3 linked regions of the Homo sapiens genome follow. The protein of the gene in region 1 purifies or fractionates together with the protein of each later gene. This does not show direct contact. Each region holds a gene or a part of one and is shown in the gene's direction. Other genes may lie near its edges. The genes, in order: C19orf38, CAMK1 and RABGAP1L.

Region 1 (3,653 bases):
CTCACACTGGCTCTACCAGCAAGAGGGGATTTGTTGGTTCACTGAGCTGAAGTCAGTTTACATGGCTGACTTCAGATATGGCTGGATCCAGGTGCTGAAAAATGACAGAAAGCATTTGCCTTCTCAGCTCCTCTTCTGTCTTATTCTCAGGTAGTTTCTCCCCCTCATGGAGGCAAGATTGTGCCCTGAAGCTTCAGATATATATTCTTTTTTTTTTTTTTTTTTTTTTTTTGAGACAGATTCTAGCTGTGTCACCCAGACTGGAAGGCAATGGCCCAATCTCGGCTCACTGCAACCTCCACCTTTTGGGTTCAATCGATTCTCCTGCCTCAGCGTCCCAAGTAGCTGGGATTACAGGCACGTAACACCTGGCTAATTTTTGTATTTTTAGTAGAGACGAGGTTTCACTATGTTGGCCAGGTTGATCTCGAACTCCTGACCTCAGGTGATCCACCCACCTCAGTCTCCCAAAGGGCTGGGATTACAGGCGTGAGCCACCGTGCCCAGCCATCTCTTTTTTTGTTTGTTTCTTCAGATGGGGTCTCTCTGTGTCACCCAGGCTGGAGTGCAGTAGCACGATCTCAGCTCAGTGCACCCTCCACTTCCCGGGTTCAAACTATTCTTGTGCCTCAGCCTCTGAAGTAGCTGGAATTACAGGTGTGCACCACACCTGGCTAATTATTTGTGGGGTTTTGTTGTTTTTTGTTTTGTTTGTTTCTTTTTGAGACAGAGTCTTGCTCTGTCACCCAGGCTGGAGTTCAGTGGCGCCATCTCAGCTCACTGCAACCTCCGCCTCCCGGGTTCAAGTGATTCTCCTGCCTCAGCCTCCTGAGTAAGTGGGACTACAGGCACGTGCCAGCACGCCTGGCTAATTTTTTGTATTTTTAGTAGAGACGGGGTTTCACAGTGTTAGCCAGGATGGTCTCGATCTACTGACCTAGTGATCCACCTGCCTTGGCCTCCCAAAGTGTGGGGATTACAGGCGTGAGCCACTGCGCCTGGCCAATTATTTATATTTTTAATATAGACAGAATTTCCCTGTGTTGGCTAGGCTGGTCTTGAGCCCCTGGCCTCAAGTAATCCACCTGCCTCAGCCTCCCAAAGTGTTGGGATTACAGGCATGAATCACCGCACCTGGCCTAAGATATCTATCCTATGCAATGCTAGCCAGAGGAGTAAACCTCTTTTCCCAGTGGTACCACCAAAGTCCCAGAGTTAGCTCTCATTGGCTCCACTTGGGTTACATGCTCATCCTGAACCAATCACAATAGCCAGGAGCGGGGGATAGGCTAATTGGCCAGACACAAAGTTTGCTAAGTCTCTTGGGTCCAGCTGCATTCATGTTCTTTGGTTGGGGGTTATGGGGTAAGGGCTGGCTACTCAAAGGTAACCTGGAGAGACGACACTGACCTGCCCACTCTCTTTTCTGATTTTCCTCCAGTGCCCACTTGGATCTTGGTGCTCTCCCTGAGCCTGGCTGGTGCCCTCTTCCTCCTTGCTGGGCTGGTGGCTGTTGCCCTGGTGGTCAGAAAAGGTAACAGCACGCAAAGCCTGGCACACAAGTTGCCAGTTGACAACTTCTGGAACGTGAAGATGTGCTTACACTCACAACTCACACCATTTTGTTTTCAGGTTCAGTAATTTGTTCATCACACCCCTTTTAAAAGTATTTATTTATTTATTTATTATTTTTCTTTTCAGACAGAGGCTCGCTCTGTCGCCCAGGCTGGAGTGCAGTGGCACGATCTCGGCCCACTGCAACCTCCGCCTTCGAGGTTCAAGCAATTCTCCTGCCTCAGCCTCTCAAGTAGCTGGGATTACAGGCGTGCACCACCATGCCTCGCCAATATTTGTATTTTTAGAAGAGATGTGGTTTTGCCATGTTGCCCAAGCTGGTCTGGAACTCCTGACCTCAGGTGATCCGCCCACCTCGGCCTCCCAAAGTGCTGGGATTATAGGCATGAGCCACAGTCCCCGGCCTAAAAATTTTTTATTTGGAGACTCAGTCTGTCACCCAGGCTGGAGTGCAATGGCAGGATCATAGCTCGCTGCATCCTTGACCTCCTGGGCTCAAGCAGTTCTCCTGCCTCAGCCTCCCAAGTAGCTGGGACCACAGGTGCGTGCCACCACATGCAGCTAATTATTTATTTATTTTTTTTAGGACAGGGTCTTGCTGTGTTGCCCAGGCTGGGTAACTCCTGGGCTCAAGCAATCCTCCCACCTCAGCCTCCCAAAAGTCCTGGGACCACAGGCACACACTACCACACCTGGCTAATTTTTAAAAAATATTTTTTGTTGAGATAGGGTCTTGCTATATTGCCCAGGCTGGTCTTGAACTCCTGGGTTCAAGTGATCTTCCTGCCTCAGCCTCCCAAAATGCTGGAATTACAGGCATGTGCCACCATGCCCAGCCAAATTATGTGTGTTTGTGTGTGTGTGTATGTGTGTGGGTATATATGTGTGTGTATGTATATATATATGTGTGTATATATATACATACACACACACACACATACATATATATATATATATATATATATATATTTTTTTTTTTTTTTTTTTAAGATGGAGTCTTGCCCTGTCACCCAGGCTGGAGTGCAGTGAGGCGATCTCGACTCACTTGCTCTGTTGCCAGCCTGGAGTGCAGTGGCACAATCTCGACTCAGTGCAACCTCCGCCTCCCAGGTTAAAGTGATTCTCCTGCCTCAGCCTCCCGAGTAGCTGGGACTACAGGTGCGTGCCACCACACCCAGCTAACTTTTGTATTTTTAGTGGAGACAGGGTTTCACCATGTTGTCCAGGATGGCCCAGCACTTTGGGAGGCCGAGGTGGGCAGATCGCGAGGTCAGGAGTTTGAGACCAGCCTGGGCAATATGGTGAAACCCCATCTCTAATGAAAACACAAAAATTAGCCGGGCGTGGTGGTGTGCACCTGTAGTCCCAGCTACATGGGAGGGTGAGGCAGAAGAATCGCTTGAACCTGGGAGGCAGAGGTTGCAGTGAGTCAAGATCATACCACTGCACTCCAGCCTGGGCGACAGAACGAGACTCTGTCTCAAAAAACAACAAAAAAAGAAAGAAAGAAAGAAAGAAAGAAAGAAAGAAAGAAAAATCTGAGGCCTTCCAGGCTGGGTGGGGTGGCTTGCCTGTAATCCCAGCACTTTGAAAGGCCGAGGCAAGTGGATCACTTGAGGTCAGGAGTTCGAGACCAGTCTGGCCAACATGACGAACCCTCTTCTCTACTAAAATACAAAAATAGCCTGGCCTGGTGATGCACACTTGTAATCCCAGCTACTCGAGAGGCTGAGGCAGGAGAATTGCTTAAATCCAGGAGGCAGAGGTTGCAGTGAGCCAAGATTGAGCCACTGCACTCCAGCCTGGGTGAAAGAATGAGACTCTGTCTAAAAAAAAAAAAAAAAAAAAAAAAAACAGAAATTGCCGGATACAATTAGGACCAAAATCTAACACATGCTCATTTCTTTTTTGTTCCAGTTAAACTCAGAAATTTACAGAAGAAAAGGTGAGATCATCCCTGGAGACCCACAGAGGGTGGTTTGGGGAAAGAAGGACACTTCCCTGGCAGGGTGGGCACTCCATGCCCCCCACAAACAGCGCCTCCTGGTGGGCATGCTGCGTAATAGGAACAGGAGCCA
Region 2 (3,653 bases), on another chromosome or scaffold:
GGCTGGAGATGAAAGTGGGACAGTTTGTGTAGGGTTTTGGAAGCCAGGCCAGGGAGGCTGGATATTGTCCCATAGGCCACCGGGAGACACTTAAGACTTTTTGGCAGGTGTGCAATTCAGGATAGTCACTCTGGCCACAGCTTGGAGGGTAAATTGGAGAGGGACAAGACTGGAAACCAGTGATGAGGTTACTACAGTAACTAATTATCCCTGAGGATTGAAATTTCACCACGAGAGATGCTTTTCTTTGACTTATGACTTCTTATTCTCCCAGAGAAAGCAAACAGATGTGGAAAGAATACCCTAGCAAATCCTCTTTAATCAGTTAACTTTAGTTAAATGAGTTTATTTGTTCCTTTTTAAGAACCTGTTCTAAAACACTGCTTCTTAAAGTTCAATGAGCATACAAATCACCTGAGGATTTTGTTAAACTGCAGATTGATTTAGTAAATCTGGGGCAGGGCCTAAAGTTTTGCATTTCTTTTTTTTTTCTTTTTTTTGACCCAGGATCCAAAGCAGTAGAGATTTTGCATTTCTAAAAAAGTTCCCGGGTGATGCTGATGGTTCTTTAAGGTTCTAAAGGGTGTTAAATTAGCCATGACTCGAATTAGCAGAAAAAGGGATGAACCAACTGTACACATAATCCAAAAGCCCAGGGGTAGACCTCAGGCATGGCTGGATCCAGAGGGCCACATAATGTTATCAGGAAATATATTTGGCCATTTCTCAGGTTGGACTTCCTTTGTGTTAATTTCATTCCCAAGCAGGCTCTCCCCAGGTGGTGGCAAAGATGATCGCCATTAGCTCCAGGCTTACATCCTACCAGCTCAACAGGAGACTCATTCTCAAAGTGCTAGTAAGCTGGCTTGCATCACATGACCAATTACTGTGGCCAGGGGAGAGACTACTTTGACTGGCCAGGCCTGGGTCATGTGACCATCTCTGGAGCCAGGGGATGGATGAGTGACTAGGGGAGGGTCATCCACGTCCTTGGTCCAGCAGTGGTCACAGAACCCATAGGGAATGGAGGAGAGGCTGGAGGGAAGCTGGGGTTCCAGTTCTTCACCTTGTGAATCCCCTCTCCCGATAGGGGGGCCTTCTCGGAGGTGATCCTGGCAGAAGATAAGAGGACGCAGAAGCTGGTGGCCATCAAATGCATTGCCAAGGAGGCCCTGGAGGGCAAGGAAGGCAGCATGGAGAATGAGATTGCTGTCCTGCACAAGTGCGTGGGCCACAGCCTTTCCCTGCCCCAAGCTGACCCTGCCTTGGCCCTCCCATCCTCCTCCTTTCCTGCTTTGGACAAATCATTTAAACTCTCTAAGCCTTAAATTGCCCCTTTATAAAATGGGGATCACAATTTCCACTTGGCAGGGTTGTGGGGAACATCAGAAGTCCTTTATTTCAAGTGCCTGGCCTAACATGACAGATGTGATGGAGGTGCCAGTGCTTAGTCACAGGGGTTTAACTGTTCAATCAGGTGTAAAGATCCATCCTGAACATGGCTTGGACCCACATATCTCAGTTGGTGTTGTCTCTGGACCTACCTCAAGTTCCCCTCACATATTAAAACCACTCAGCAAGTTTAAAAATGACTGTCTGCTGACCCCCAGACTAAATCCACAACCAACTGGTCTATGAATTGCTCATGCTGATATGAAACCTCCTGTCCTCACTGGAAAACTTACAGAGAATCACTTCCAATCTCTCCCCTGAGCTTCCAACCACCCTGGGCAGATAATTTTTTTTTTTTTTTTGAGATGGAGTCTCACTCTGTTGCCCCGGCTGGAGTGCAGTGACGCAATCTTGGCTCACTGCAACCTCTGCCTCTTGGGTTCAAGCAATTCTCTTGCTTCAGCCTCCCTAGTAGCTGGGATTACAGGCACCTGCCACCACGCCCGGCTAATTTTTGTATTTTTAGTAGAGATGGGGTTTCGCCATGTTGGCCAGGCTGGTCTCGAACTCCTGACCTCAGGTGATCCACCCGCCTCGGCCTCCCAAAGTGCTAGGCATGAGCCACCACACCCAACTCCTGGCAGAGCATTTCTAATAAGACCCAGAGAGGACAGGGATTTGTATACAGTCACATGGCAAGTTTGTGGCAGAGCTGAGCCTTCCTCATCATCAAGATCAATTATCGCCTGACCAACACGGAGAAACCCTGTCTCTACTAAAAATACAAAATTAGCCAGGCGTGGTGGCACATGCCTGTAATCCCAGCTACTTGGGAGGCTGAGGCAGGAGAATTGCTTAAACCCGAGAGGTGGAGGTTGCGGTGAGCCGAGATCACACCGTGCATTACACTCCAGCCTAGGCAACAAGAGCAAAACTCCATCTCAAAAAAAAAAAAAAAAACAAAAAAAAAACAAAAACGCCAGGCGCAGTGGCTCACGCCTGTAATCCCAGCACTTTGAGAGGCTGAAGTGGGCAGATCACCTGAGGTGGGGAGTTCCAAACCAGCCTGACCAACATGGAGAAACTCCGTCTCTACTAAAAATACAAAATTAGCTGGACATGGTGGCGCATGCCTGTAATCCCAGCTACTTGAGAGGCTGAGAAAGAAGAATCACTTGAACCCAGGAGGCAGAAATTGTGATGAGCCAAGATCATGCCATTGCACTCCAGCCTGGGCAACACTCCAGCCTGAGCAACAAGAGTAAAACTCCGTCTCAAAAAAAGAAAAAAAAAATCAATTACCATTATTGTTTCACTTATGAGTATTTACCGTGTGCCAGGCACTGTGCCAAGCACCTTACCTGCATTATCTCACATGATCCTCACTCCAACTCTTTGAGGGAAGTACTACCATTGGCTTCATTTTATAGATGAAGAAACTGAGGTTCAGAGAGGTTACATTAAATCTAGCACCTACCCTGTACCAGGTGCTGGAGGAACAGTGGCAAGCAAGACAAAGCCTCTGGATTCGGGGAGCTTATGTCTGGTGGGGGAGGCTGACAAACATGTAAACACAGAAAACTATATATATATATTTTTTTTGAGATGGAGTTTTGCTCTTGTTGCCCAGGCTGGAGTGTAATGGCATGATCTCGACTCACTGCAACCTCCGTTTCCCAGGTTTAAGCAATTCTCCTGCCTCAGCCTCACAGATAGCTGGGATTACAGGCATGTGCCACCATGCCTGGCTAATTTTTGTATTTTTAGTAGAGATGGGTTTTCGCCATGTTGGCCAGGCTGGTCTCGAACTCCTGACCTCAAGTGATCCGCCTGCCTTGGCCTCCCAAAGTGCTGGGATTACAGGTGTGAGTCTCTGTGCCTAGCCAGAAAACTCTTAAGAGGTATGTATCAGGCTGGGTGCAGTGGCTCACTGGTGAAAAGATCTGCACCCAAATAGCATGTGACGGGCAGGATTTGGACCCAGGTCTGTGTATGCCAGAGCCCAGTGTTTATCCCTCTGCTCTCTCACCTTCCAAAAAATGGTAATAAACCATGGTAAGCTAGCTTTTCCCTTTGGGGACGAGATCCTTGGTTTGTCCTACCCAGGTATGTAGGCAGTGGTCGGGGGTTGGGGGTGGCTGAGCTGTCCTGAGCTCTAAACCGCTGTTTTTTTTTTTTTTTTTTTGAGACAGGGTCTTACTCTGTTGCCCAGGCTGGAGTGCAGTGGCTAGTCACAGGTGCAATCATAACAGACTGCAGCT
Region 3 (3,653 bases), on another chromosome or scaffold:
GCCCCTATACCATCTAGGTTTTTATAAGTACGGTGTATTCTATTTGCATAAAGAAATCACTTAATGACACATAACTTAGAACATAACCCTATCATTAAGCAACAGGTGACTCTGTGTGTGTGTGTGTGTGTGTGTGTGTGTGTGTAGAGGAGAGAAAGAGACCATTATCATATGAGTGTGTTGGGGCTGCTGAGAGGGTTTCGTTTACAAGTGACCTTGAGTGTATTTCATCTCTGGAATGCATGGTCCCTGCGCTCAAGCTACACAATCTGATTAGTGAAGTATTACTAATACACTAGAAAAATATACATAGTAATTACCAAATGACTGACACAATTTTATAGGGGGTTCAGAGAAACATCTGTGAATGGGTAATAATGAAAAAAGAAAAGTTTTTCTCTTTGTTTTAGTCTGACCCTTTTAACAGTCTCTATTCATAATGTGAGGAAATCGCTACAAAAACTGAAATATTGTAGATACTGTTCATTTGCATATGGAAATACTTGTATGCTGTGTGTTGTTCTTTCATGGGACAAACTCTACCCCTCCTCTCTCCACACACATATACACAAGCTATAAGTAGCCTAGCTTTCGCCATAGGAGTTGCTGGCTTTTTTAGTGAGAGTCAAGAGCTGGCTTGGTAAAGTCTTAAAGAATGGAGAAGAGGAGGAAGGAGAGAAGGGAAGAAAGAGGGAGTAAGTGTAACAGTAGAGGGAGAGAGTTAATACACTTGGATGCTGCTTACAAACCAAAAATTAGTCTCCTAATACTAATTTATGATTGTAAGAAAGTATATAAATATCTGACATATAGAAAATAGACAAGTGTTAATTTTAAAGGTATTAATTGCTACAAACTAAATTAATATTTTAAGAATTCATTAAAAATTAGAATATTAGAAGAAAAATATTAACTTTCCCTACTGTGATTAGCTACTAGTTCAGTTTAACTGTCTTCAGCTAATTCTATATTATTGTTTTAATAGAAACCATATACATTCTTATGTGTATATGAGATTTGGACAATTGGTGTCAAGATCAAGTTAAATACAACTTTGTAACAATATTATGTTTTTTTGATTCAGCATGTAAGTATATGCCTCCTTTTATCCAAGGGTACATGTCTTTAAATAGAAACTGTGCTTGAAGAAAGCTGTAGAAGAATTTAATATTTAAATAAATGCTTTTGTAGGATGAAAAGAATTTACAGTGAATATAAAGCTCCTGCTTGACTGTTAATCTAAATTTTAATAATTTGTATTGCTTAAAGTAAGATGTAATTTAAAGTAGTGATTTTTTTGATGTCTTTTATCAGTAATTACTGTTTGAATTTTTATAGGAATCCATGGGAAAGAGCTATGATGGGAGAGCTTATGTCATCACTGGCATGTGGAACCCCAATGCACCAGTATTTCTGGCACTTAACGAGGAAACCCCAAAAGGTGACTTTTCTTAAAAGATCCCTTATTGTTTGCTTTACATTTTATATTATGAACAATGTTGCTTGTCATGTTTTAAAAAAAATTTGGAACTCAAAGTGGACTTATTCTTTCATTGAGAATTTGAGGTTCATTTTTATTCTTTATGCTTCTATGGGGGAAATCTCCACTATTTAAAAAAATCCTCCCCAAAAGATATGTGAATTATTATTATTGTTATTATTTTAAGAGACAGGGTCTCACTCTGTTGCCCAGGGTAGAGTATAGGGGCATTATAGCTCACTGTAACCTCAAACTGTCATGCTCAAGCAATCCTCCCACCTCAGCCTCCTGAGTAGCTATTAAATAGAACTACAGGTGTGTGCTGCCATGCATGGCTAATTTTTAAATTTTATTTTTGTAGCGATGGGGTCATGCTTTGTTGCCCAGGCTTGTCTTGAACCTTTGACCTCAACTGATCTTCTTGCCTTCCAAAGCACTGGGATTACAGATGTGAGCCACTGCACCTGGCCTGAATTAATTTTATTAGATTATAGAGAAAGCATTTGGGCTTTGTTTTTCATATACCACTATAGAGTTATTTCATTTGTGGAGACTAGTGATGGAGAAATATTAAAGAAAATGATGAAAAGGAAATATTTTAGAATTTTGAATATTTTTAAATTATTAACTATTTTTGCATTATAGTTTACTTATAGTTTTTCATTTATTAATTATTGGCTCCAGTCTTTTGGCCTTCGGGATGCTTGTAATATATATTAAATATTTCAGTTGTAGCAAATAGTTTTTTCTTAGTTTTTTAACTTTTCATATTATTTATCATGTCTAGTATTGAACAGAATGTATAAATGTTGAATAGTCACATTTTTCGTTGTTCCATTGTGTTTTTTCATTCCTACTTCATCCAGATAGCTGTTAATTGCCTGTTTTTTGCCCCTTCATTATCTACTTTTAAACTAAATTTAAAGTTTTACCTGCCGAGTTATATGCCTACCCTAAGTGCTTTACTGTCATTAAACCATTAATTCATATTTAGAATATAATGGATCAGTTTGTTTTATCATTAATTTTTATATTATTTAGTTTATACCCACAGTAGACTTTTGGTTACTGACAGGAAGCATTCGTGAATACTGATATGAAAATATAATATGTTAATGAAGGGCATTAAAATGATAATTATTCTTTCATTTCCTTAAAGAGAGTATTCACCATTTATATAAATCACATACATTGATCACATATTAAGCTGTCTAAAAATAAAGGCTAAACAGAAAAAAAGATTATATAAAATTTAACTTTTCATTTATTAGCAGTAAATAATTTTTAGACCCACAATTTGTTATTTCTGGAGACAGGCTTGCAAATACCTGTAACTTCTTTCTTATACTTGTTCAGAAGGAAGCCACAAAAATGATAAAAATAAGCCAGTTGACAGTTTTGAAGAACAAAATATAAGAATTTTGCATATCAAGTTATAAAAATAGTTTTTATGTTTTTAATGTAACACCTAGTTTAGTTTTATTTTGCAATAAAATATATATTTGGTCCACAAAAGAAAATTTATTTATAATTTATTCTATTAAACTATATAATAGTATATTATAATATTCTGATTCAAAGTATACATTTTAAATTTAACATTATCTCATATGCCACACAAAAATGTTGCCCTGATTTTTAAAATTTCTAAATTATGTCCTTGAAATTACACATTACTCAGAGAATGTGTGATCAAATAAAGTTTGATTTTTATGGAAGAAGTTTAGAACCTGAGAGATGAAAAGTCTTGGATCTTTCCACTGCACTAAGATCCAGTTGAATGTTATATTCTGTCTTGTGTTATTACTCCTTACTCCTTTCTCTAAGGTCCTCCAGGTCAAGTATAATGTCTAACAAATTTTAGTTTCTCTTGAATTGGCAGGTGTATTTAGTAAGACTGTATTTAGTAAGAATGTAATAAAATTGTTATTGAATTTGAGAAGTAGTTGATGAATCTGAATGTTATATAATATTTAAAAACACTATTGAGGGTTTCTTCTAGTGGTGGCCTTGGTTATTTGGACTTTCCTTTAACAGAGAACTAAAAATTGTAAAGAAAATAAATTTTAAAAAATATTTAAAAAGGAATGAGGAAATTACAAAATGGTATGGAATGACCAGGCCATAGATTCAAAAACCTCAATGAGGCCAGGTGTGGTGGCTCACGCTTGTA

Evidence for each region.
Region 2: the proteins of C19orf38 (region 1) and CAMK1 purify together in Homo sapiens (affinity purification with mass spectrometry; one large-scale study listed by BioGRID and IntAct). This does not show direct contact.
Region 3: the proteins of C19orf38 (region 1) and RABGAP1L purify together in Homo sapiens (affinity purification with mass spectrometry, with the first as the bait; one large-scale study listed by BioGRID). This does not show direct contact.

What each region holds. Positions count from the first base shown.
Region 1 is NC_000019.10:10,854,824-10,858,476, forward strand, and holds part of C19orf38 (protein HIDE1 precursor), read left to right. Parts: intron 1-1,441; coding exon 1,442-1,534; intron 1,535-3,492; coding exon 3,493-3,520; intron 3,521-3,653.
Region 2 is NC_000003.12:9,763,328-9,766,980, reverse strand, and holds part of CAMK1 (calcium/calmodulin-dependent protein kinase type 1), read left to right. Parts: intron 1-330; exon of another isoform or gene 331-845; coding exon of another isoform or gene 846-1,090; coding exon 1,091-1,222; intron 1,223-3,653. Other genes in the region: OGG1 (N-glycosylase/DNA lyase), read right to left, coding at 846-1,172. UniProt on the Homo sapiens protein: Calcium/calmodulin-dependent protein kinase that operates in the calcium-triggered CaMKK-CaMK1 signaling cascade and, upon calcium influx, regulates transcription activators activity, cell cycle, hormone production, cell differentiation, actin filament organization and neurite outgrowth.
Region 3 is NC_000001.11:174,274,495-174,278,147, forward strand, and holds part of RABGAP1L (rab GTPase-activating protein 1-like), read left to right. Parts: intron 1-605; exon of another isoform or gene 606-695; intron 696-1,338; coding exon 1,339-1,441; intron 1,442-3,653. UniProt on the Homo sapiens protein: GTP-hydrolysis activating protein (GAP) for small GTPase RAB22A, converting active RAB22A-GTP to the inactive form RAB22A-GDP. Plays a role in endocytosis and intracellular protein transport.